7 linked regions of the Homo sapiens genome follow. The protein of the gene in region 1 interacts with the protein of each later gene in a pairwise test. Each region holds a gene or a part of one and is shown in the gene's direction. Other genes may lie near its edges. The genes, in order: EWSR1, PRUNE2, CFAP298, CMC4, BNIP3L, CETP and MVK.

The links.
Region 2: the proteins of EWSR1 (region 1) and PRUNE2 interact in a two-hybrid assay, tested with the Homo sapiens proteins (one large-scale study listed by BioGRID and IntAct).
Region 3: the proteins of EWSR1 (region 1) and CFAP298 interact in a two-hybrid assay, tested with the Homo sapiens proteins (one large-scale study listed by BioGRID and IntAct).
Region 4: the proteins of EWSR1 (region 1) and CMC4 interact in a two-hybrid assay, tested with the Homo sapiens proteins (one large-scale study listed by IntAct).
Region 5: the proteins of EWSR1 (region 1) and BNIP3L interact in a two-hybrid assay, tested with the Homo sapiens proteins (one large-scale study listed by BioGRID and IntAct).
Region 6: the proteins of EWSR1 (region 1) and CETP interact in a two-hybrid assay, tested with the Homo sapiens proteins (one large-scale study listed by BioGRID and IntAct).
Region 7: the proteins of EWSR1 (region 1) and MVK interact in a two-hybrid assay, tested with the Homo sapiens proteins (2 studies listed by BioGRID and IntAct).

What each region holds. Positions count from the first base shown.
Region 1 is NC_000022.11:29,292,268-29,295,767, forward strand, and holds part of EWSR1 (RNA-binding protein EWS), read left to right. Parts: intron 1-220; coding exon 221-339; intron 340-3,500. UniProt on the Homo sapiens protein: Binds to ssRNA containing the consensus sequence 5'-AGGUAA-3'. Might normally function as a transcriptional repressor. EWS-fusion-proteins (EFPS) may play a role in the tumorigenic process.
Region 2 is NC_000009.12:76,896,115-76,899,614, reverse strand, and holds part of PRUNE2 (protein prune homolog 2), read left to right. Parts: intron 1-3,500. UniProt on the Homo sapiens protein: May play an important role in regulating differentiation, survival and aggressiveness of the tumor cells.
Region 3 is NC_000021.9:32,605,878-32,609,377, reverse strand, and holds part of CFAP298 (cilia- and flagella-associated protein 298), read left to right. Parts: intron 1-1,661; coding exon 1,662-1,729; intron 1,730-3,500. Other genes in the region: CFAP298-TCP10L (uncharacterized protein LOC110091775), read left to right, coding at 1,662-1,729. UniProt on the Homo sapiens protein: Plays a role in motile cilium function, possibly by acting on outer dynein arm assembly. Seems to be important for initiation rather than maintenance of cilium motility.
Region 4 is NC_000023.11:155,061,137-155,064,636, reverse strand, and holds the end of CMC4 (cx9C motif-containing protein 4), read left to right. Parts: exon of another isoform or gene 1-603; 5' UTR 604-613; coding exon 614-671; intron 672-2,645; coding exon 2,646-2,794; 3' UTR 2,795-3,015; downstream 3,016-3,500.
Region 5 is NC_000008.11:26,386,054-26,389,553, forward strand, and holds part of BNIP3L (BCL2/adenovirus E1B 19 kDa protein-interacting protein 3-like), read left to right. Parts: intron 1-3,500.
Region 6 is NC_000016.10:56,968,450-56,971,949, forward strand, and holds part of CETP (cholesteryl ester transfer protein isoform 1 precursor), read left to right. Parts: intron 1-936; coding exon 937-1,071; intron 1,072-1,161; coding exon 1,162-1,232; intron 1,233-1,464; coding exon 1,465-1,552; intron 1,553-2,583; coding exon 2,584-2,653; intron 2,654-2,871; coding exon 2,872-2,932; intron 2,933-3,500. UniProt on the Homo sapiens protein: Involved in the transfer of neutral lipids, including cholesteryl ester and triglyceride, among lipoprotein particles.
Region 7 is NC_000012.12:109,583,794-109,587,293, forward strand, and holds part of MVK (mevalonate kinase), read left to right. Parts: intron 1-2,228; coding exon 2,229-2,332; intron 2,333-2,960; coding exon 2,961-3,006; intron 3,007-3,297; coding exon of another isoform or gene 3,298-3,372; intron 3,373-3,500. UniProt on the Homo sapiens protein: Catalyzes the phosphorylation of mevalonate to mevalonate 5-phosphate, a key step in isoprenoid and cholesterol biosynthesis.

The sequences.
Region 1 (3,500 bases):
TGATATTCTTGCTGTCAAGGACAGTTTGGGAAATCCTATGTGAGCATCTACTCATAATTGCCTTAAGTGAAGTAAACCAAAAGTTTGATAGCATTCTTCTTAGTATGCTTGGTAGTTTTCTTAGATTTATGATGAATATCCTTGGGCAGTAGTGATCAGGTAGTTAAGAAACCCCTATAGATACATGATAATAATTCTCCTGTCTTGTTGTCTCTGAAAGGCCCACCTGTAGATCCAGATGAAGACTCTGACAACAGTGCAATTTATGTACAAGGATTAAATGACAGTGTGACTCTAGATGATCTGGCAGACTTCTTTAAGCAGTGTGGGGTTGTTAAGGTCAGTAAAAGCATAACCAGGTCATCTGGCAGAACTTTAAACCACAGAGCATTTTAAAGAGATTGAATTGATGTTGAGAGTTGTTTTCTAAGGTTGCCTTTGCCTGACTTCTTTCTAGGTATCTTATGGTTTGTTCCTTTTTAAAAAAGATTAGCCTTTTTTTTTTTTTTTTTTTGAGACGGAGTTTCCTTCTTGGTGCCCAGGCTGGAGTGCAATGGCGCAAGTCTTGGCTCACTGCAACCTCTGTTCAAGCGAATCTCCTGCCTCAGCCTCCCAAGTAGCTGGGATTACAGGTGTGCGCCACCAGCTAATTGTGTCTTTTTAGTAAAGATGGGGTTTCACCGTGTTGGGCAGGCGGGTCTCAAACTCCTGACCTCAGGTGATCTGCCCACCTTGGCGCCTCCCAAAGTGCTGGGATTACAGGTGTGATCCCCTACGCCCGGCCTTCCCTCCTCCACCCCTAGGGACAGAGTGTTGCTCAATCTCAGCCTCCCAGGTTCAAGTGATTCTCCCACCACAGCCTCTTGAGGTAGCTGGACTTATAGGCACATGCCACCACACCCAACTAATTTTTATATTTTTAGTGGAGATGGATTTTTGCCTGTTGGCCGGGCTGGTCTCTAACTCCTGGCCACCTCAAGTGGCCACCTACCTCAGCCTCCCAAATTGCTGGGATTACAAGCATGAGCCACTACACCCAACCTCAAATTATTGTGTCTTTATGCTAATTCTTCATAGCTAGTAACGCAGATTTTTTCTTCAGGGATTTTGACTGTTTTTCAGTTCTTGCTCTTCTGTATTAGAGTTAGTTTATGAACCCCATAAACCTCAAAACCTTAAAACCCCAATTGAATATTTACTAAATCTATGAAGTAATTTCAGGAGAATTTACATTTTTATGATACTGAGTGATCTTTTTTTCCCCATGAAGATTTTATTTCTCCATTTATTTGTATATTTATTTGCTTATTTATTTACTGAGACAGTCTTGCTGTGTCACCAGGCTGGAGTGCAGTGGCACGATCTCGGCTCACTGCAGCCTCTGGCTCCTGGGTTCAAGCGATTGTCCTGCCTCAGCCTCCTGAGTAGCTAGGATTACAGGTGCCCGCCACCACACCCAGCTAATTTTTGTATTTTTAGTAGAGATGGGGTTTGGTGAAACCATGTTGGTCAGGCTGGTCTTGAACTCCTGACCTCAGGTGATCTGCCGCCTCAACTCCCAAAGTTTTGTGATTGCAGACATGAGCCACTGTGCCTGGCCTGTCTCTATTTGTTATTTTATTTTACTTTGAGACAGAGTCTCACTCCTTCACCCGGCTGGATTGCAGTGGCGCAGTCTTGGTTTACTGTAACCTCTGCCTCCCGGGTCTCCTTGCCTCAGCCTCCCGAGTAGCTGGAATTACAGGCGCCTGCCAGCACCCCTGGCTAATTTTTGTAAGTAGAGATGGGATTTCACCAGGTTGGTCAGGCTGGTCTTGAACTTCTGACCTCACGTGATCCACCCACCTAGGCCTCCCAAAGTGCTGTGATTACAGGTGTGAGCCACCACACCCAGCCTATTTAGATCTTCAGTAAAGACTATCGATTTCCTTAAAGGTCTTGCAAATTTTACTAGTTTTACTTCTAGGTTTCGTTTATTTTCAAGTTGCTGTGGTTAAGGGTCTTCGTTAAATGACACTTTTCTGGTTATTACTGGTGTATAGAAATACAGTTGATTTGGCCGGGCGCGGTAGCTCACGCCTGTAATCCTAGCACTTTGGGAGGCCGAGGCGGGTGGATCACGAGGTCAGGAGATCGAGACCATCCTGGCTAACACGATGAAACCCCGTCTCTACTATAAATACAAAAAATTAGCCAGGCTTGGTGGCGGGCACCTGTAGTCCCAGCTACTCGGAGGCTGAGGCGGGAGAATGGCATGAACCTGGGAGGCGGAGCTTGCAGTGAGCTGAGATGGCGCCACTGCATTCCAGCCTGGGTGACTGAGTGAGACTCCGCCTCAAAAAAAAAAAAAAAATACAGTTGATTTTGGGCGGGCGTGGTGGCTCATGCCTGTAATCCCGGCACTATGGGAGGCCGAGGTGGGTGGATCACGAAGTCAAGAGATCGAGACCATCCTGGCCAACGTGGTGAAACCCCGTATCTACTAAAAATACAGAAATTAGCCGGGTGTGGTGACACGCGCCTGTAGTTGAGCTACTTGGGAGTCTGAGGCAGGAGAATCAGTTGATCCCAGGATGCAGAGGTTGCAGTGAGCTGAGATGGCGCCACTGCACTCCAGCCTGGCGACAGAGCAAGACTCCATCTCAAAAAAAAAAAGGAAATACAGTTGATTTTGGTAAATCTTATATAAGGTGATTTCTCCCTGCTTGTAGGTGTGTGTGTGCACAGATATCACACACACCTCAAAAGTAAAATGCTTTTAGTGTCTACTGTCACATTCTACCCTGTGCAAGACTCCTTGTTTGCTTTTTTGTTTTGAGATGGAGTCTTGCTCTGTTGCCCAGACTGGAGTGCAGTGGCACAATTTCAGCTCACTGCAACCTCCGCCTCCTGGGTTCAAGCCTCAAGCCTCTTGAGTAGCTGGGAGTACAGGCTTGAGCATATTAAAAAGACTGCTTTTTAATATGTATATAACATGTAGTTTATTGAGGAATGTGGAGTTTATCCTGGTTAAGAAAGTAGTATTTACCATCAAAATTTTGGAAATAAAGATGTTAAAATAGATTTCCAAGCTGGATACAGTGGCTCACATGTGTAATCCCAGCACTTTGGGAGGCCAAGGCAGGAGGATCCCAAGGATTGCTTGAGCCCAGGAGTTTGAGACCAGCCTGGACAACAGAGTGAGACTCTGTCTCACAAAAAAGAAAAAAATGCATTTCCACATTATTCATACCACAGTTTTGCCATATTTTCTTTTCAGTTTTTAGGTATCACGTTCCTTTTTTTAAGTCAGAGGTATCAATATATATATCCTGTTGTAATCTTTTTTAAGTCCTATAAATAGATTGCTCTTGTGTTACTGGATATATGTAAACAATTACAGACTAAACTGATCGTGTGCATATATAATGCAAAAAAGTACACGTGAAGATATTCTTATACAAGGTAGCTCCTGAATTCAAGTCAACCACATCTGATATTCAGCTGAAAGACTAGTCATC
Region 2 (3,500 bases), on another chromosome or scaffold:
GCTCAAAGAGTGGTTTTAGAATTAATAAACCCTAAAGGCAAGAGTCCTGCACAAAGCATGACACTTTGTAGTGGCTCAATAAAAATAAATAAACGGAGGGCCAGGTTTAGATTTTTGGAGGTCTGAATCTGAAGAAAGGCTATTGTCAGGAGGCAGGAAGCCATATTTGTTTGCTAGAAGAAGGTGAAGGACACTAAAGTCAAGGAGCACCATATTGTACTTCATACACAGTAAGTACTTAATACAAAGTGTTAAGACAAAATAAAAATCTAATTTTTATGCATGACTGCTTGGGATCTATAAATATTGGTTGAACTAAAGCATGAATGGAGAGAGGCAGAGGAGAGGAATGGGGCACTAAAAGCCTCTGCAAAACTGCATTGGGTAGATCAGCCAACAGTGGAACCATTGGAACCGTAGGTTCTCCTCCATGTGGCTCAAAGACTAGAAGTTGGGCTCCCCCAAGGCCAACCACTGTACCAAGTCAGCCCAGCCTAGTCTCTTGCTGCCCCTTGACCAGTGCTAATATCATGAGAGAGATTGGCAGGGAAGCTGTTCAGAGTCCTTGAGAGAAAAGATTAGGCATTCCAGACTTCCTGTCCAGCCCTGGCACTGCAGACCTCATGTGTGGGGTAAACCCATGCATGATCCTGAGTCAGACCTCTCGTCCAACTAGTGGGACTGTTTGTGGTGGAGCGTGATCATGGTCTTCCACTTCATCTAACTCTCCTGGATGTGACCAGACCTTCCCAGGTTATTTGTTTTAGCCTGTAATGCCAGAGTCTTTTTGAACTGATGATGTCTAGGAAAATTGCATATCTTTGGCTCCATGCATTTGATATTTCTTGCTTTGGCTTCCCAGAAGCTTAAAGCTATGTTGGTGCTTCATTTTCTTAGCCTAGGATTTCCGAACTAAGGTTTTTTTTGTTTTGTTTTTTTAATTGTTACTACTTAGTTTTAATCTCATTATAGTTGTTTTAATTTTTTTACTTTAATGTATATGCACTTTTATTATAAGTAGGTTATCCTTTTGGTTACTGTCAAGAATAAATAAATACATCTTATAATAATATATATGATCTTGAGTATATATTGGTGACCAGTCTGGCCTAATTCAGGGTTCATCTACTCAAATTTGAGAATTAGCTTTTTGTAGTAATGGAGAATATAGTGTGGGACTTCAGAATAAGTAGCTGAAAGGAAACATCAACACAGTCCAAAGATTGTCTGTGTTCCCATCCTTGATGATTGCTGACCTCCCTGAGAGCAGCAATAGCCACACTTCCTTATATCTGAGCCCATAAATGGGGAACTGTGAGGCAGTCCCTGGCAGAGGCTGCCTGCCCTAAATCAGATCCTGGGAGATTTTCCTAGAGTATGAGTTGTGGATTTAGGAGACCCTTAGAAGGACTTTTGTCCTCCTTCCCACTTCTTGCCCCCTAAAGGCAGTACAGCCGGGCGGCTAATCATGTGGAGCCAGTGCCTGATTTCAAATCCTAACCCCGCCACTTTTACTTGCTAGTCACACAATCTTAGTTTCTTAGCCTCCCCGGGTCTCAGTTTCATCATCTGTAAATGAGAACAGTAGTAGCACTGGCCTCACAGGGCTGCTGCATGTGTGTATGCCCTGAGACGAGGACGTGATCTCCAGGCACAGTAATAAAAACATGAAAAGGCCACTAGCAAACAAGAGCCAGGAAGCCCTATTTACATTTCACAGAAACAGGAACAATTCTTAGCTGTCTTGCAATTCAGTTAGAATTTGTGGAATATCTGTCTTAGCTCTAAGAGATACTTTTAAAATTTGATTTAACTCCCACAATGGTCTTGTAAGGTAGGTACTAATCTCCTTTTGCAGTTGCCAAAACTGAGGCTCAGTGAGGTTAAGAGGTTTGCCCAGGCCAGGTGCAGTGGCTCATGCCTGTAATCCTAGCACTTTGGAAGTCCCAGGCAGGCAGATTGCCTGAGGTCAGGAGTTCCAGACCAGTCCAGCCAACACGGTGAAACCCCATCTCTACTAAAAATACAAAAAAATTAACTGGGCGTGGTGGTGTGCATCTATAATCCCAGCTACTTGGGAGGCTGAGGCAGGGGAATTGCTTGAACCAGGGAGGTGGAGGTTGCAGTGAGCCGAGATCATGCCTCTGCACTCCTTCCAGACTGGATGACAGAGCGAGACTCCATCTCAAAAAAAAAAAAAAAAAAAAAAAAAAAAAAAAAAAAAGAGGTTTGCCTAAGGTTGCATAGCCACAAAGAGTAGAGCTGGAGTTTGCTTCCGGATCACCTGACTTCAATTCTAGGACCTTCTTCCTCATACCATAAGCACCTCTTCCCCCAAGATCTCCTGGAACATTTCATTCTTGTTAAATTAAAAGTGAACAGCTTGACAAGTTTATAGGAGGGCTGAGTGGTAAGTTAGTGAAATTGCACATATATTGTTCACGCTGACCCAAGAGGGGTTCATTCTTCTGTGTTGCTTGTTTTATGTTAAAATCTTTTGGACAACAGAATATCAACCAATGTTACTGAAATCCTGCTATGAGAAAAACATGGTGTTAGGCCATCTGAGATTTGGTTGAATACATTGTGAGATTGTTCTCACTGCATGCCCATTTGAAAGAAAATTAACTGATAAACGATTGGGAGGAGAATGTGTGTGATTAGCTTTTAGAGTAATTAGAAATGTTATGGGCATCATTTGGTGAAATGTTAAGAACAAGAATGCATTTTTAAAAGAGTTTAAATGCCTCTTATTTGCCACCAAGGTTATTTGGTTTTGTAGTTTCTTCACTGTTGCCACTCTCTTATTGGTGGCCTTAAATACCACTTTGATGGATTGACCGATGTCAGGGGGTCTAGGCAGGAGAAGATCCAGGGTTAGAACACAGCTCTCGGTTGTGTCAAGTCCACTTTGGCTCTCCAGTCTGCTGGTTTAGCAGCGCCCCAGAAAACTGTTGATTATGCTCACGATACACACAGAAGTGAAGGAAAGGGGAAGAAAGGAAAGAAGGAAGGTGGAGGCAGAATTGGAGGGGAAATAGGAGAAAAGAAAGCGATGAAAGGATTCAAGAAGGAAGCAAGTATGAACATCCTTCCACAATTCAGGACAGGATGCGTTGTAAGTGCAACAGTTCTTATGTCCACGGTCACTTCCCTGGCACATCAGCCAACCCAAAGTTACCCCAAAACTAGGAATTGGGCAAAGGCAACTAAAGTTGATTATTGAAAACCTATCATCAGTTAGTTCTTTTCTCACAGGAAAATTCCCTAAGTGCAATCTCTGAGGCTATTTGCGAGATGATACTTGTAAATCATTCACAGAAATGCTGGGAGCATAGCAAAACACATGAATGCTAGCTACCATCATTGAGGTTATTATTTAATGTGCACTTTGACACAGTGTTCACCAACCTTGTTTTCTCAGAAGGGGATGATGGAAAGGGAGGTGGCTGCCAGAGGCTGTAATAGATGATGACTTACGATGGGGAAACTACACAAAC
Region 3 (3,500 bases), on another chromosome or scaffold:
GCTTTTGTCTTGCTCTTTAATAAGTTGCAGCTTGCTTTTATATGTATTCGACGAACCAGATGAAATGACCCTTTCCCTTCTGTAGCTCAAAAATGGTTGAGTATTGGCAATTTCATGTGTTTCCACCTAATAATTGTTGGCAGGTCCTCACCGCAATGTATTCAGAGTTGTGTTTTGTTACTGTTCGCAAATGTTGGGGGATCTTTCGAGATGGACTGTGTGAAAGAGGAAAGGGAAAGCATGTCAGCACATGGACTTCCCTGATCAAGGACATGCTTCTCTCTGGGGCAGAGCACTTCAGTACACGGCAAAACACTGAGGAAATTCCTCTCCTTTCAGTGTTTGGCTGATCATGTGGAATTGATGATAATCCTTTTTGATAGCTTATTCTTTTTAACCTGCATTAAAAGCGCCATTTAAAACACTGTAATTGAACAGCCCTAAAACACTGTTAGGAGTAAAAGAACAGTATTCCTGCAAGGCCTTTAGCAGCTCAAAAATACATTTTTTTAAATATCAGGGATAGTAAGAATTCCTAGTATTTTTTCCTTTCAATGTTAACCTGAAAAATGGTTGTCTTCCACAGCTTTCTTACGTAAGAAGATGTGGTAAGATGAGGAAAAAAAATATGAGAACCAGTTAACAGTTCATTATTCATCATTAAACCAATATGTAATATGTTCTTAAATTAACCACCTTTTTTTTTTTTTTTTTTTTTTTTGAGACAGAGTCTTACTCTGTCACCCAGGTTGGAGTGCAGTGGCACAATCTCGGCTCACTGCAACCTCTGCCTCCCGGATTCCAGTGATTCTCCTGCCTCAGCCTCCAGAGTAGCTGGGATTACACATGCCTGCTACCATGCCCGGCTAATTTTTGTATTTTTCATAGAGACAGGGTTTCAGCATGTTGCCCAGGCTGGTCTCGAACTCCTGACCTCAGGTGATCCACCCATCTTGGCCTTCCGAAGTGCTGGGATTACAGGCGTGAGCCACTACGCCCAGCCTAACCACTTCTATTATAATACAATCTTGTGTTTCTAATATTTTCAATGTCTAATTAATACTGTTATTTACTAGGAATGTATGGTTTCAACTTGCCCCATTTTCCCTAGGTTTGGGCATTCCATCTTCTTCTTTTTTTTTTTTTTTTTTTTGGCTTCTAAGCTTTCAAGTTATTATTTTTTCCTGATCTAGGGGTCACCAAATTATGGGCTACAGGTCAAATTTAGCCAGCTGCCTATTGTAAATAAAATTGTAAGGAGACGCAGCTACCCCAGTTATTTAAGTATTGTCTGCTCTTGTGCTACGTGGCAGAGCTGAGTTATCCCACCCAACAAGACTGTGTGGCCTGCAAAGCCTCAAATTTTACTCTCTGGCCCTTTCCAGAAAAAGTTCACCGGCCCTGTTTACCCAACGACATGCATTTCTGTTTTTTGTAGCCTTTGCCACTTTGCGTAAAGCACACTCCAGGTCTCTGCTGTTGGGAAGAGGTCTTCACCTAACTTCCGGCAGCCAGGTTTCTTGCTTCTCTTCCCTAAATTCCACACTCGCACTCTCTCTCAGTTCATTTACCCCCTGACTCAGACAGAGGGGATTGAGGTATTTCAGAAGAGGCTTTGTATTTGACAGCTCTTTCTCCCTCTCTCCTTTTTATTTTTATAGCTCCAAATGAGAAGATGAAGCAAGTGTTAAAGAAGACTATAGAAGAAGCCAAAGCAATAATATCTAAGGTTGGCTTTTTTAAATGATGCACTAAAACTTGTTGGGTTTTTTTTTTTTTTTTTGGAGATGGAATTTTGCTTTTGTTGCCCAGGCTGGAGTGCAATGGTGCGATCTCGGCTCACCACAACCTCCACCTCCTGGGTTCAAGCAATTCTCCTGCCTCAGCCTCCCGAGTAGCTGGGATTACAGGCATGCACCACCATGCCGAGCTAATTTTGTATTTTTAGTAGAGACGGGGTTTCTCCATGTTGGTCAGGCTGGTCTCGAACTCCTGACCTCAGGTGATCCGCCTGTCTTGGCCTCCCAAAGTGCTGGGATTACAGGCATGAGCCACCGCGCCCGGCCTAAAACTTGTCTTTTGAGATAAAACTCCAACTCTGGCTTCCAGAGTTGCCTCTCAGCCAGCCTTCTCTTTCAGCCTTCCGGAGGCAAAGGAAACAAGCGTATTTGGGGTAGGCTGTAGCTTTTCCTTTCATAATCCTGACGGTTGCCCAGAGGCCTCTCCGTTCCTCCAGGCAGACACAAATTTTTGTTGGCTTATGTAAATATAGGTTCACGTATAATACAAATATGTATAATACAAATGTTGATTTCATTTCTTTTACCTTTTTGAAGAACTTAACAAAGTTAAGTAGGGGAGATTTGAATATTGTGGCCATCGAGTAGCTCTCCAGACACTTGATTGACTTAATATGTATTTGATATAAATGGTTTTTTGTAATTGTCTTCAGCATTTTATACAAAGGCTAGTTTATAGAGGGAGGAGCGTAAATTTATACCATTGATATACAGATAATGTGTATCTGGAGGAAGAGAATTTAAGGCTATTGAAAGAAGTGGTATCTGTATCTGTTGCTTGTATTTGTGTGTTGGTGATATTAGTTGCTACCGCTCTCAACTGCAAGTCTCTTGACTGATCACCACTTTTTCTTCTGCTTCTCCTGGTTTGCTCAGCAGAACTGTTATTTTTAAACCAATATTTCTCAAACTTACCAAGCTTTTGACTAATCTTTGAAGAGCCTCAGCAAAGGCTGCCCTGAAGCTCTGTGCCTGTTAATATAGGAAAGGCTTTATGAAGCTCTACAGGAGAGGCCCTGGTTGAGCCCGTCGTTTGCGTGGTGATGGCATCTAGGCATGTGAGCACGTCTCAGGCCATGGCAAGAAAACAGTGGTCTGGCTGTTGTTCTGCACCCTTCTCCCCACACTTTGCTGTGGAACTCCTCTCTCGGTCGCCTCACTTCTCCCCTTTGCCTGTGTACTTCTGAAAGTACTTTTTATCCTTGGTCTTCTTCCTCTCTCAGTATCTTATCTACTCTGCCAAATGCAAATTCCACCCTCTGCAGATAACTCTGAAGCTTCCATCCTTTCCCCCTGACATCTTGCTTCACTTCCAACCTGAATTTCCAGCTGGTTGTGAGATGGTTCTATCTGAACACCCAGTCAGCACTTTGAAGTCCAGTTTTCTAGAAATGAGCTCTTTGCTTCCTCACTCCTCTCCCTCTCTGTTCTGTCCCTGAGAATCAGCACCTCCTATGAGCTTCTCTGTTTCCAGTAACAGAACCACAGTGTCTTGGTTTTATAGGGCAAATCCTCAGTGTCATCTTCAACACTTCTCCCTTCTGTCACCTCTAGGTTTGAAGTGGGGTTCTGTACCGTCTGCTCCCATGATGCCTCTTAAGTCCACCTCTTCCTTTCACTTCCACAGCTGTGGCTTTCTTTAAGGCTCTCCTGTAGCCTTTTGCATTCTGATGCCCACTGGGGGTCCTGCCAGTCAATTCA
Region 4 (3,500 bases), on another chromosome or scaffold:
ACCAAATATTGCTGATTCCTAGGAAAACATTTACTACTTGTAAAGAATTTCCTGAGTTAAAGTAGTTATAACAGTTTATATACATTAAAAGTAAGGTTTTACTTTAAAAAAAAAAGTCTTGGGAATAATAGCTACCATGTATTGGAGTCCTTTCCAGGCACTATTGTATGTACTTTATATACTTTATCACATTTAATCCTCCTGTCAATGCTTTGAGGTAGGTATGATTCCCATTTTATATATGAGTAATAAAAAAAGCTCAAGGAGTTTAATCATTTATCAAGGGTTTCTTCTGCGAATGATAGAGCCAGGCTGCGCCGTCGGCTCCTCTAGCCTAACGTTGGTTTACAGTATTCAAAAAGAGTTGATTGAATTCAAGGTTTTTTTTCCATGTAAAGCTATTTATATCTTCCAAGCCTAATGAAATGGATATTATAAAAATACAGTTGATTCATCCTATGTTTGGGAAGAGTATTTTTAGTGTAATTATTTTCCAGCAATTGTAAGGGCATATACTGCTTGTCTCAGAAGAAAATTCCACGTAGAGGGGCTTTAAAGTCTTTATGGAAAAAAGAAAAATAAAAATCATTTTTCTTGTTTTAGTTTTCTGGATATGCCGCAGAAGGATCCGTGCCAGAAGCAAGCCTGTGAGATACAGAAATGTTTACAAGGTAGTATATTGTAAAATGCTTTAAAAATATTTTTCCACTGTGAACTAACTATAAGAGACCAATTATTCTTTTATCTGTATTAACTCTTTTTTAAGAATGTAACGTATATGTAATTATCCTGAAGATTCTCTTCATTGTATCATCAAAGATGCAGAAAATAAAAAGTAATGTGATCAAAGCTAGGGGTTTTCACTCCAGGTGATTAGCATCACCTGGAGATCTTTAAACACTTACCTAGAACAATTCAGACTTCCTAGGGCTAGGGCTAGGAAAAAAAGGGTTTTTTGTTGTTGTTGTTTGTTTTTACTAAAAGGCTAGTTTTAAATTGGTTGGTTATACTTCACTGCAGCTGACAATTCACTTTTTAAAAGCAATCTGGAAGAGGTGCGGTTGAAATAACAATTGGAATTCAGGCTGCCAAAGTCATCAACTAACTCTTAAAGGCAGAAGTGAATCTCGACTAAAGCATATTTGAGGTGATTTGTCCATTTGTCCAGCTGCTAAGTTTGACCAAATGTTAGAGGATTTTAGTTTTCTAATCAGTGAATGACTGTTGCCAGAAGAGCAAATAGAAAAAGCTATAAGGCTATCTGAATTTGAAAAAATTTTAATAAGTTTTCCTCACTAGTAAAGTAATAGATGGAGATGGAAGGTCATGAAAATATAGAAAGGTATGAAGGAAAAATGTTCAGAGTTCCCCCAAAGATTCACCACCAAAGAAATCCTTTGTTTGTGTATCTCCTTGGACTTTTAGCTTTCATTCTTGGACTTTTCATTTTTTGATGTTAGCAATATTTTATAAAATCTTTTAGATTAAAATCTGGATGTATAATAATGCCATTTTAGTCAAACTTCTTCCCTCCAACTTTAAGGAAAAGGAAAAAGTTTTTTGCATTTAATTCCTTCTCCCAAATAAAACCTTACCTTGTTTGAAATAACCCATAGCTAAGGGAAAAAAATAAGTTAAAAAGAGCTGGTGACACCCCCTTGGCAGTGTGGGAGGATTAAGAACTGGAAAGACTAAAAGATGACAAGCACCGTTATAAGGACTTTATACGTATTAAGCCTTTCATCCATGAGGTAGATGCTACTATGACCCCCATTTCATAAAGGGGAAAACAGACACACAAGTTATGTAATTTGACTAGGGTCACATAGCTAGTAAGAGGTATGGTGGGAATTTGAACACCCCCCGCCAACCCCGCCCTTGGTCTAGCTCCAAATCTGGACTGTTACCCACCTTGCTATACTGCCTTTCTAATCAGAATTGTCTTTCCTATCCTGAGCTAACTACCATGTACTCCATTTTAGTACTGGGGGACTCATTAACTGCAGCTGACCTAGAGTCTTTAGGTCAGGTCCTCCTTAACTTAGTGTTTATGTATAGTAGGGATCTGCAAATGTTTTATGAAAAAGGCCAAACAAGTAATATTTTAGGCTTTGGAGGCCAAAGGCCTTTGTTGTATATATTGTGTATGTGTTGTGTGTTTACAACCCTTTAAAAATTAAAATCCATTTTTAGCTCCCAGCTGTAAAAACCGGCTGAATTTGACCCTAAGGCTGCAGTTTGCCAATTCCTGATGCACAGCCTTAGTAGGGGAGGTCCAACAATCAGCTTAAACTGTATGCAAAATAATGTGTGGTGTATGTGCATTTTCCTAATTCATCAAATTAGTGACCAGTAATAAAAATGATGTTAAAAACCAATGTCCTAGAAAAAGGTGCATACATGCTATTAACCTTAAAGGAAATTATATATTAAAATAGCTTTCAACCACTTTGTAAATCATACTTTCCCTAACGAACCTGTCGACAGGTCTCTAAATTAGAAAGAATTCAGTGGACTTTGGTATATCTTCTTTCTTCCAGTTCCATAGGTACTGAAAGTGAAAAGGGGTGGGAAGCACTGATCTAAACCTCCCTGTACCTTAGTCCTATGAGATCATGACTAGAGTCTGCCTGTATGTTTTTCAGCCAACAGCTACATGGAATCAAAGTGTCAGGCTGTCATCCAAGAACTGCGTAAGTGTTGTGCTCAGTATCCCAAGGGAAGATCTGTCGTCTGTTCAGGATTTGAAAAAGAAGAGGAAGAAAACCTAACACGGAAGTCTGCATCAAAGTAAAGTTCTTCTGAAGTGCTGCTCCATGTTTCCACCAAATGAATTTTTTTTATCCTCCTGACTCTTCAGGCCAGGTAGCAGCAAATAGCAAATGAAAAAGTCAGCTACAAAAGTTAATGAATATGCCATCTATGCAGAACAGGCAGAAATATAAACACATTAAAAGACAAATATGTAGAATGTAATATACTGAGCTGCTAAAATAAACCTGTTTAAGAGAAAAATTTGGGTTTTGTACTAAATGTATTTTAAGACTATTAGATATAGGGTATTAATGAATTCTCTTGAAGTTCAAGCCACTAGTGCCATTCATCAAATTTAAGTCATATGAGGTATGTTAGGTGAAAGGACTCACTTCCAGCATCACAATTTTGACGCCCTTTTTTTTTTTTTTTTTTTTTTTTTTGAGATGGAGTCTCACTCTGTCATCCAGGCTACAGTGCAATGGTGCGATCTCGGCCCACCGCAACCTCTGCCTGCCGGGTTCAAGCAATTCTGCCTCAGCCTCCCAAGTAGCTGGGATTATAGGCATGCACCACCACGCCTGGCTAATTTTTGTGTTCTTAGTAGACGGGGTTTCACCATGTTGGTCAGGCTGGTCTTGAACTCCTGACCTCGTGATCTGCCCGCCTCGGCCTCCCAAAGTGCTGGGATTACAGGCGTGAGCCAATTTTGATACCTTTTATAGATTACATGCTAAACTAATTCA
Region 5 (3,500 bases), on another chromosome or scaffold:
AAACAGGAGAAGAAATGTACAGATTATCTTGCGTTTGGGATTTTATCTTTGGTTCAGGGGTCAAAGCAGGGTTTCAATAGCAAATTACTGAAGTATTTGAATAGTGAAGTATTTTTGTGATTTTTTTTTAACTTTACCGCTGTGGAGAGACTGTTCACTTTCATTAAAAATTACAGGGCAAATACCCAAACTCCTTCCAAGTCAAAAGGATGTTGTCCAGTTTGTTTTATTGTTAAGAAAACTATCAACTTCCTTAAGAATGTTTGAATAAGATTCAATAGGGCCGAATAAGGAAAATCAAAGTAGTAGTGTAAATCGTAGTATAATTCTTGTTGTTGAGAAGTATAGCCTTTTTTTTCTTTTCAAATTTTCTTGTTCTTTTTTGTTTTTTGTTTTGTTGAGACAGGGTCTTGCTTTGTCACCCAAACTGGAGTGCAGTGGTACAGTCATAGCTCATGGCAGCTTAGACCTCCTGGGCTCAAGTGATCCTCCTGCCTCAGCCTCCCAAGTAGCTAGGACTGCAGGTGTGCACCCCCACATCCAGCTAATTATTTTATTTCTTGTAGAGTTCGAGTTTCACTTTGTCACCCAGGCTGGTCACCGGCTAACTTATTTTTTGTAGAGATGGAGTTTTGCTTTGTTGCCCAAGCTGGTCACAAACTCTTTTTTTTAAATAGAAACATCTTCAAGCACAATGTCCTTGCTTTCTTGTTATGAAGAGTGCTCTTAAGGCCTTCATGGATTGTCACTGCCTCATAATAATGTTTTGAATACCTACGTAACTTGTATGTAAATACATACTGCTGCAAAAAGACCAACTTTTCAAAAATTTATTTATTTATTTTTTTATTTAAGAAGAATGCCAGTAACTCTTGTTGGCCTGGTCTGGATTTCAGCATCAGGTTGGCCTGGTCTGGATTCCTTTCAATAATGAATGAAAAGCTTTGAGGAAAGAATGTAAATATAATGAAATTTCAAAAGAGTTACATGTGGGCCTTGAAAAGTTAGGGGGAAAGATGAGGAGAAATACTCTTCATTCTCTCCTCCCCTTGTCCCAAAGCTCCTCTCTTCTTCTTCTTGCAAGAGGATTGAACTAGTGATTATAAAACTGTAAAGATTATACAACATACGGCAATGAGTATAATCACAATTATTGGACCACCCTTCACAGTCTATTATGTTAGAGAACGGAGAAGCATTCACAGAAGTTTCTCTGAATCTCTTAGTCATTCCCAAAAACCCAAACCAGAAAATATCTCATGTCATTGTATGTTATGTACAAATTGGCATAAGGAACAGCTCTTAGTTTGTAAAGTCTTTTAGATAATGGAGAAAGCTTCCAGCTTTTAGTTTTCAAGCTTGATCATTAGGAGGAGAATTCACTCTGTGGTTGTTTTCTACTTTGTGTTGCTTGGACAGCACAAACCTCTTATCTAGCCTTGTTTCCTTTCCAAGTAAAAAGGGACTTTGTGAGGATTGGTAGAGTTAGAACACTAAGAAATTCTGAGGCTGTAAATCAGGAACAAATCGGGTGATGGGAAACAGACGTGTTGTTCATCTATTGAGGAAGACACATTTGCTTTTTTATGTGTTACTCAAAAGATTAATATGTAGCCTCTTAATGCCTGTGTACATAACTTTCTCTGTACCACTATGTATTTCCATAGATGATATTTTTGAAAGAGAATTACCCTTAATTAATTAAAGGAAATCTACACTTTTAAGGCTGTTAATACCTATTGTCAAATTATTCTCCAGAATGTTCACTGAAGCCCTAATTGTAATAACAAAGTATTAGAAACAACCATCTCAGTAGTAGTTAACCATTGCCATTTAGATAATGGTTAAAGTATGGTATATCTTTATAAAAGATGAGATGCAATGCAGTTGTTCAAAAGAATGAATGTCAGTATATATTGATAGGGAAGACATCTGAAAAACGACTTACAGAATATGTCAGTATGTGTGTATGGTACAGTTCCATTTCTTTATAAAAACAAAAGCAAAAACAGACCTATATTTCATTGACAAAAACTCTGCAAGTCTCCATGTGAAACTGTCAAAAGTGGCTCCTTTGGGAGTAGGAACGGGAGGTTGGGAGAGATGTTAATTTTTAATTTTATGTACTGATGTTTACGTTTTCTAGGAACACATTTTTCCAGTAAGGAATGGTTTTTCTATGATATAGAATATAATTGTAGTAGCTAAAACTTTCTTAGGGACCTTTCTTATTGTTCTGCGTGCTATATTCATTTAATCCTCCTAACAAAGTCTTCGAGGTAGATACAGTTATTATCTCTATTTTATAGATGAGAAAACTGAGGCACAAAGAGGTTAAGTACCCTGTGCGAGGGTAACAGCTATAACTGAGAGTGGGAGCCTGGCTTCAGTCTCAGCCCCTGACCACACTATACCAGTGTATCCCAAGTACAAATTGTCCGCCTTAAGTAGAAATGCTTTCAGTTATGATTCAGGGTGTGGAGGCCACAGCAGAGATCACTTTTACTAAGCTTTTCTAGGTATGTCTCTTTCAGGTTCCAAAAGTATATATTGGATTATGATTGCTTATGTGTTTTTAATGAAGAAAATAGGATCCAGACATTGATTTGAAAGTCCTTCAAAAAAGTAAAAACCAGGTTGGGAGCAGTGGCTCATACCTGTAAGCCCAGCACTTTGGGAGGCTGAGGTGGGAGGATTGCTGAAGCCCAGGAGTTTGAGACCAACCTGGGCAATGTAGGGAGACCCTGTCTCTACTAAATAAATAAATAAATAAATAAATAAATAAATAAGTCGGGCATGGTGGCATGTGCCCTGTAGTCCCAGCTTCTTGGGAGGCTGAGGTGGGAGGATTGCTTGGGCCCAGGAATCAAGGCCGCAGTGAGCTGTGATTGTGCCACTGTACTACAGCCTGGGTGACAATGCAAGACTGTCTCAAAAGAAAAACAAAAGTAAGGACCAGAAAACCTGATATTGTTTGTTACACCCTTTTTTCTCTTCGATTGCCTACTTCAAGTGAATATTAATTGTATTTTAGGGAAGACTGACTTCCACAGAGACCTATCTGGAACTCCTGGTTCCTTACCTCTGCTTCTGTCAGAGCAGCTCTGGGTTTTGGTTTGTTACTATTGTACACATTAGGCTTCTATACAAGAAGAACTGGTCCCATTGGTTTAAAAATAAGTTTGAAAATCCTAGAAACAGTGAGAGTCAGAAAAAAAAACTGTTTTTATATACATATTCTCTCCCCCACCCCCTTTCTCTCCAGTTGAAATATGTTGCAGAGCTCTAAATTTAGGGATGCTTTTGGCGTATTTCTTATACACTCCAGAGGCACTCGAGATAAATTATCTTCAATGTTAGATCTCTCTTAGCTTTGCTAGTTGTATTTGTTAATCCATTTTGAGTTCTCTAGCCTGTGTCCATTTTATGTGTGTATAGAATGAGGCCATGGAGATGTTGTACAACTGTGTCGTTTGGCAGCAGAGTCCTAAGGAATTGGT
Region 6 (3,500 bases), on another chromosome or scaffold:
GTGCTAGGATTACAGGTGTGAGCCACCACGCTGGCCCACCAACCTATTTTTGATCTAACTTTACCTCTGGTGGTGTATTGATACTCTTCCGAATCAATTTTCACCCTTCTTCATATACCATTTACATTTCTAAGAATTTGTCCATTTCATTTCATCTAGTTAACCTCATTTGTTGACATACAATTGTTCGTAGTATTCTCTCATAATTCCTTTTATTTCTGTAAGACTGGTAATAATGGCCTTGCTTTTATTTCTGTTTTTAGTAATTTGAGTCTTCTTCTTTTTTTTTTTTTTTGCCAGTCTAGCTAAAGGTTTGTTGATTTTGTTGATCTTTTGGAAAAACCAGCTATTGTTTTCACCGATTGTTGTTTTTGTTCTATTATTTCATTCATAGGCACTAAGATCCTGATTACTTCCTTCCTTCTGCTAGCTTTGGGCTTAGTTTGCCCTTATTTTTCAAGTTCCATAAGGTGGAAAGTTTGATTATTGAGTTGAGATCTTTCTCTTTTTTAAAGATAGGCATTTCTAGATATAAATCTCCCTGTGAGCACGGTTCCCTCCATCTTCAGCACACCAGGGTTGACTCTCTCCGGGCGTTCTTCCCTGGTCACCTCTCCCCTTCCTCTCCTCTTCTGCCTCCTCTTCCACTTTTCGGTACCCTGTGATTGTATTGGGACCACCCAGATAACCTAGGATCATCTCCCCACCTACCCCAAGGTCCTTAACTTAACCATACTTTCATATGGGTAACACGAGTTGAGTGTGGTACCCAGGGTTTGACATGTTGGGTAACATATTTGCAGGTTCTGTGGATTAGGAGGACATTTTGGGGGCCATGATTCTATCTTCCACCCTCGCCTAGACAAAATTGGAGGCTCACTCCTTGGGCTCCCTGGATGACCCCCAACATCCTTCCTCACTTCCATTCCTTCCCAGCATCCAGATCAGCCACTTGTCCATCGCCAGCAGCCAGGTGGAGCTGGTGGAAGCCAAGTCCATTGATGTCTCCATTCAGAACGTGTCTGTGGTCTTCAAGGGGACCCTGAAGTATGGCTACACCACTGCCTGGTGGTAAGCATTCCTGTCAGCTGATGCCCCATGCCCTGGCCCTCTCTGGGCTGGAGGGCTGAATGAGGGTCCTGGGTCCTTGGCTCTTTCCAGGCTGGGTATTGATCAGTCCATTGACTTCGAGATCGACTCTGCCATTGACCTCCAGATCAACACACAGCTGAGTATGTGTCAAGCGTCCTCTGGGGAAGTGGGAGCTGGACTCCAGGGCTTGGCCTCAGCAGAGGGGGAGGTTGTGCAGGCAGAGGGTTCTGGGGCCACCAAAGGAGGCCCAGCCTGGGAAGTTTGCAGGGGTGGGGACCCCAGAGCTGGCCAAGCTCTTGACTGGCCTGGGCAGCATGTGGATACCATCTGATAGCGGAGGCTGCCCTGAGGTCATGTCGGGTCTCCCTGCAGCCTGTGACTCTGGTAGAGTGCGGACCGATGCCCCTGACTGCTACCTGTCTTTCCATAAGCTGCTCCTGCATCTCCAAGGGGAGCGAGAGTAAGTACACCACCCTGTGGCCCCCATTCCTGCTCGTGCCCATCCTGTTAGTGTGTCCACGGCTCCTTCCAGGCTCAACCCCACACAGGGCATGCTTGTGGGTGGCCAAACCTGAGGGCAGCAATACCTTCAGTGGGGTCACTTCCTACCCCCTCCCATCAATACACCCTCAAAGGCTGGAAACAACAATAACCAACAGCTAGTAACTAACAGCTATTAAGAACTTGCTGTGTGCAAAGCACTATTCCAAGCCCTTTTCATGAATTAATTGATTTTGTCCTTAAAACCAACCCTAGGATATAGATTCTGTTATCATCCCCTTTTTACATATGGGTAAACTGAGTCACAGAGAGGTTAGAAAGGAAAAGCTCATATCTACGGAGTGCATCCTGCATTCCAAGCACCACACTAACTCAGAGATAAAACTCTAGCCAAGCTAAGTAACTTGCTGAGGACACACAACTCGCCACTAAGGGATGGGAGTAGGATTTGAACCCAGCATTCTCTGACCCCAGAAGCTGAGTTCCTAGATACTTTACTCTCCTGCTTCCCAGGGTGGGGCTTTTTGTCTTGGCCAACACCCTCTGTCAAGGAGCTGTGGGTAACCCCATTGCACAGAGGAAGATAACAAGGTTTGGAGAGTCCCTAGTCATGTTACCAATGCCAAACCTGGAAGGCAGAAGGGAACTGGTGGGTGGGGTCTGGAGAGGAGCCCTCTATTCAGGCCATTTTCTGACTCTGGAGCAGACGGATACATGTATGAATTTGGACTCTAGACACGTTCTCGTGTGTGTGACAGGTGTGAGCGTCACAGGAGCTGGGCCCTCCCGAGGAATTCTGGGATGGTGCCACAGTTAATTCTTGGGTCTGAGGCTCCGTGTTCTCAGCTGCAAAATGGGAGTGATAATTCTTACTTCCTGAGCTACAAGAGTCAGGGCCAACAGAGCCATGAACGGTGCCTGGTACACACTAGGCGCTCCATGGATGCACAGGACTGGTCAGGGGCTCATTGTGGTGCTTGCTGCCTTCAGGCCTGGGTGGATCAAGCAGCTGTTCACAAATTTCATCTCCTTCACCCTGAAGCTGGTCCTGAAGGGACAGGTGAGTGAGGCTGGCTGACTCCCTGTGGTCCAGGGCCATGCCCAGGAGGCTGGATCCCTTTCCTCCCTGCCTTTCCCTGAGAAGGTGCCACTCCCACCTTCTCCATGTGGCCAGTCCCCTGTGCCGGTCCCCAGCACTGCCACCACCACGCAGCTGGAAGGAGGCACTGCCTCTGGCCTCCTTTCCTGCCTGGAAAGCACCTGCTCTGTCTGCCCCAGATCTGCAAAGAGATCAACGTCATCTCTAACATCATGGCCGATTTTGTCCAGACAAGGGCTGGTGAGTGCGTTTCTGTCTGCATGCCTCAGAAGACAGCAGTGGGAGCCAGAAAGCCACCTGCTGCACTATGTGGCCTTGGGACTGTCACTCTTCCTGTCTAGGTCCCATGGGCTCTATCTGGCTCTGACACTTGATGATTAGTTATGAGCATACTTTGGCAAATCTCTGCCCCTTTGGGCTGCAGCCTCACAAGCTGTGTGGCGTTGGGCAAGTCTATAGAACTCAGGACAAATGGGTGATTAAGTCCAAGAGGACTCCAAGATTCTCCTGGAAGTAGATTAGGAAAAAAGATAATTAGATTGCTCACATGGCTGGGCACTCATCCATGTACTGTACTCTCCTATGCAGTACAGAGCAGAGCTGGGTTTCAGCCCAAGTCTTGGACTCTGCTCTGAACCAACCTTCTAGAAGGGCTCTACCTACCCAGACAGACAGACTTGGGAAAAGAGAGAATGAAAAAGTGCCACACCCCTCCCCGCACACCCAGGTCCCACTTTACAGAGGGGAACACTGAGGCTGGAGGGTTGGGTAGCTGTGTGGATGCAGGGGAGCGGTGACTCAGGGCAAT
Region 7 (3,500 bases), on another chromosome or scaffold:
AGTGTCATGGATTTGTTTGTATTTGAATACTGATCGCTTTCTGACCTTCACTTTCTCCATTAGACTCTAAGCTCCAAGAAGTCAGGGACCTTGTCTGTTTTGCTCCCTACTAGGAGCTTAGTCACAGGCACATAGCAGTTGCTCAATAAATGCTGAATGAATAAGTGAGTGTATCTTGTTGGCACCATTAAGTTAGTAGCTAAGAGCTTGGGCTCCAAGTCAGCAGATGTGGTCCTGACCCAGCAGTGAGTAGCACTGTGATCTCCAGGATGCTGTTTGACCCATCCAAGCCTCAGTTTCCGTTTCTGTAAGAAACAGGATAATTATTATACCTTCCCTGTAGGGCACAATTGGGAGGATTATGAACCATTTCTCAATGGTCCATTTGAGAAAGCATTTAGCACAATGTTTGGCACATGCTAATCAATAGTATGTTAACTGATGTTAACTCATTATTAATCATAGTCTCACAGCTACCATGTGAGTTGCCAAGTCCGTAAAAATCCTTATTTGGCAGATGAAGAAAGAGACTCAGAGCAGGTAATTGACTTGCTCAGGGCTCACAGCAAGTAAGTGATTGAACCAGGCCCCCAGGCGCTGTGACCCCAGACGGCCTATTTTGAGGGGAGCACATCCTATCTCCTGGGCATTACACAAAGCACTTGTGTATTTTTTCCATCTCAATATCCTCAGTGAGATAGACACTATTATCCCTGTTTTATGGATGAGAAAACAGGGTTTAAGGTGAAGCAGTTGCTCACAGATGCCCAGTGAGTCAGTGATAGGATGGGCTCCAAAAAGGGCTCACTGGCTGGGCACGGTGGCTCACGCCTGTAATCCCAGCACTTTGGGAGGCTGAGGTAGGCAGATCGCTTCAGGTCAGGAGTTCGAGATCAGCCTGGCCAACACAGCAAAAACCCATCTCTACTAAAAATACAAACATTAGCCAGGCGTGGTGGCAGGCGCCTGTAATCCCAGCTACTCGGGAGGCTGAGGTAGGAGAATCGCTTGAACCCAGGAGGCAGAGGTTGCAGTGAGCTGAGATCGTGCCACAGCACTCCAGCCTGGGGGACAAGAGCGAAACTCCATCTCAAAAAAACAAAACTAGGCTGACTGCTTACTCCATAACTCTGCCACTGAGCCACATCATTCTCAGAGGTCAGAAAACCACCTTTAGCTTCTGCTGTTTCATGAGGAAGGGAATCTGCAGAAAGGAAACAAAAGCTGAGAGAAAAGAGTGGGGAAGTGGGGTTGATCATTTTGTCTTGTTCCATACTCATGTGTTTTGGGTCTGTTCATTTAAACTGTTTGTGAGCCCACACCTGGTCCATGGAAGGCAGTGAGGCCACGTGCTTGGGAGAGATCCAGACATGGTTGGGACGAGCCTGGCCCCTCCAGGGGTCTCTGGGGCTCCTGGGATTTGAATTCATAATGATCGTGCTTTGGATCTACTTGCAGGGCCCTGGGAAAGAGTCACACCTCTGCCCGTTCTTCTTAAAGGCAGGCTTGGTTCAGGTGTGGACGCTTATGCAGAGGTCTGTTATAGTGGCAGTTGCCACCTGCTGCTTGTGGACACCTTGCCATCATTAGACACACATGCAGCTAGCCTCTGAGGAGGGTGGGGGTTCCAATTCTCCAGGGAAGGATAATGAGGCTCAGAGAGGTTAGATAACAGGCCCAGAGTCACTCAGCTAGTAAGAGGCAATGCAGGGGCCAGGTGCGGTGGCTCATGCCTGTAATCCCAGCACTTTGGGAGGCCAAAGCGGGCGTTCGAGACCAGCCTGTCCAATATGGTGAAACCCCGTCTCTACTAAAAAATACAAAAATTAGCTGGGCGTGCTGGTGTGCACCTGTTGTCCCAGCTGCTCGGGAGGCTGAGGCAGGAGAATTGCTTGAACCCGGGAGAAAGTGAGCTGAGATTGCACCACTGCACTCCAGCCTGGGTGACAGAGTGAGACTCCGTCTCAAAAAAAAAGAAAAAAAAAGAGGCAAAGTAGGACCACGGGAGTCCAAAGCCCAGGCTGTTTTGACTGCGCCAGGTGGGCTTCAGAGGGAAGGGCGCACACTTGGCACGCTCCGTAGCTGGAGAGGTTCAGAGTGGACTTGTTCTTTCTGAGCTCAAGGGCCCAAGCTCCTATGCCCCTTGGCCTGCCCAGCACAGCCCCAGGTGACCCCTCCCCAGCCCCACTCCTCACTGCCACAGTAAAGATGAACATCTGTGTCTTCAGGTGGACCAAGGAGGATTTGGAGCTAATTAACAAGTGGGCCTTCCAAGGGGAGAGAATGATTCACGGGAACCCCTCCGGAGTGGACAATGCTGTCAGCACCTGGGGTAGGTGTGGCCTCAGGTTTATTTTATTGTTGTTATTTTAAAAATTCTTATTACAATGGTAGGTGCCCAAGAGTCTGTGCTGGTTTGGGAGGAATCGAATCAATGGATTCTGGAAAAAATAGCATTTTCCTATTTTGGGGGGAATGGGGAGAAATCTTGGGGCCCTGTCTCACACCCCCTGAATCAGAATCTCCGGGGGTGGAACTGGGGCCTGGGAAGCTGCAGCTTCCACGAGCTCCCCAAGAGAGTTGTAGGTTCAGGATGCAGAGCCGTTGCCGTGGAGTTTGCACACCATCCAGGTGGCCTCCCCTCTGGCAAGAACTCTTGCTTACAGGGCCCAGATGCTGTGTCCTGGGCCCCACCTTCACCATGTGGCTTGTCGGGGGAAGCTGGACAGTCTGGAGGGAGGGGGACCCAGGAATCCAAGGCCTGGCAAGAGCTTCCTGGTGGGGCTTCGGGGACCTTTTGCCCTCCTGCACCTTTTGTAACTGAAGCTGGGCTGACTCATTACTTAGCCTCTTTCCTGAATGGGGCAAAATGAACCCAACCCAAAGTTCAACCTCTCTCCCAAGTAGCACAGATATGTTAGCTTTTCCCACAGCTCTGACCCACTGGTTTTTCTCTTTAGGAGGAGCCCTCCGATACCATCAAGGGAAGATTTCATCCTTAAAGAGGTAACCTGGGGGTGGAGCAGCACATTCAGCCATGGCTGCATTGATGTGTGCAGGGGGCAGAGCTCTGCACCTTTGGGAAGTACCATAGGAGGCAGGTGTCCCTGGCTCTTCATCCCCCAATGTGGCCCTCACAGTGCACTAGCTGCAAGGAAGCAGGGGTGGTGGGGAAGACCTGCTCTCTCCTTCTCCCCTTCAGCTCTTAAATTGCAGAGATATCAGAAAGGGAAAGTCATGCATGGCTGTGCCCGTAGACTCTCAGCTGCTCATTCATTCATTCCTGTATTTGCTTAGTAAACAAGAATCCATTACTTCCTGTGTTCCCGATGATGCTGCACTGGGGCGTAGGAATGGAGAGATGAAGCTTGGGTACAGTTTCCAAGGACTCTCAGTCTGCTTGTGGGGGTGGGGCCAGACACACACAAAAGCCGCCACAGGACAATGTGAGAGTCACCATGATGGAGGCACACAGGGCAGAGGCAGGATGGAAGCGGGAG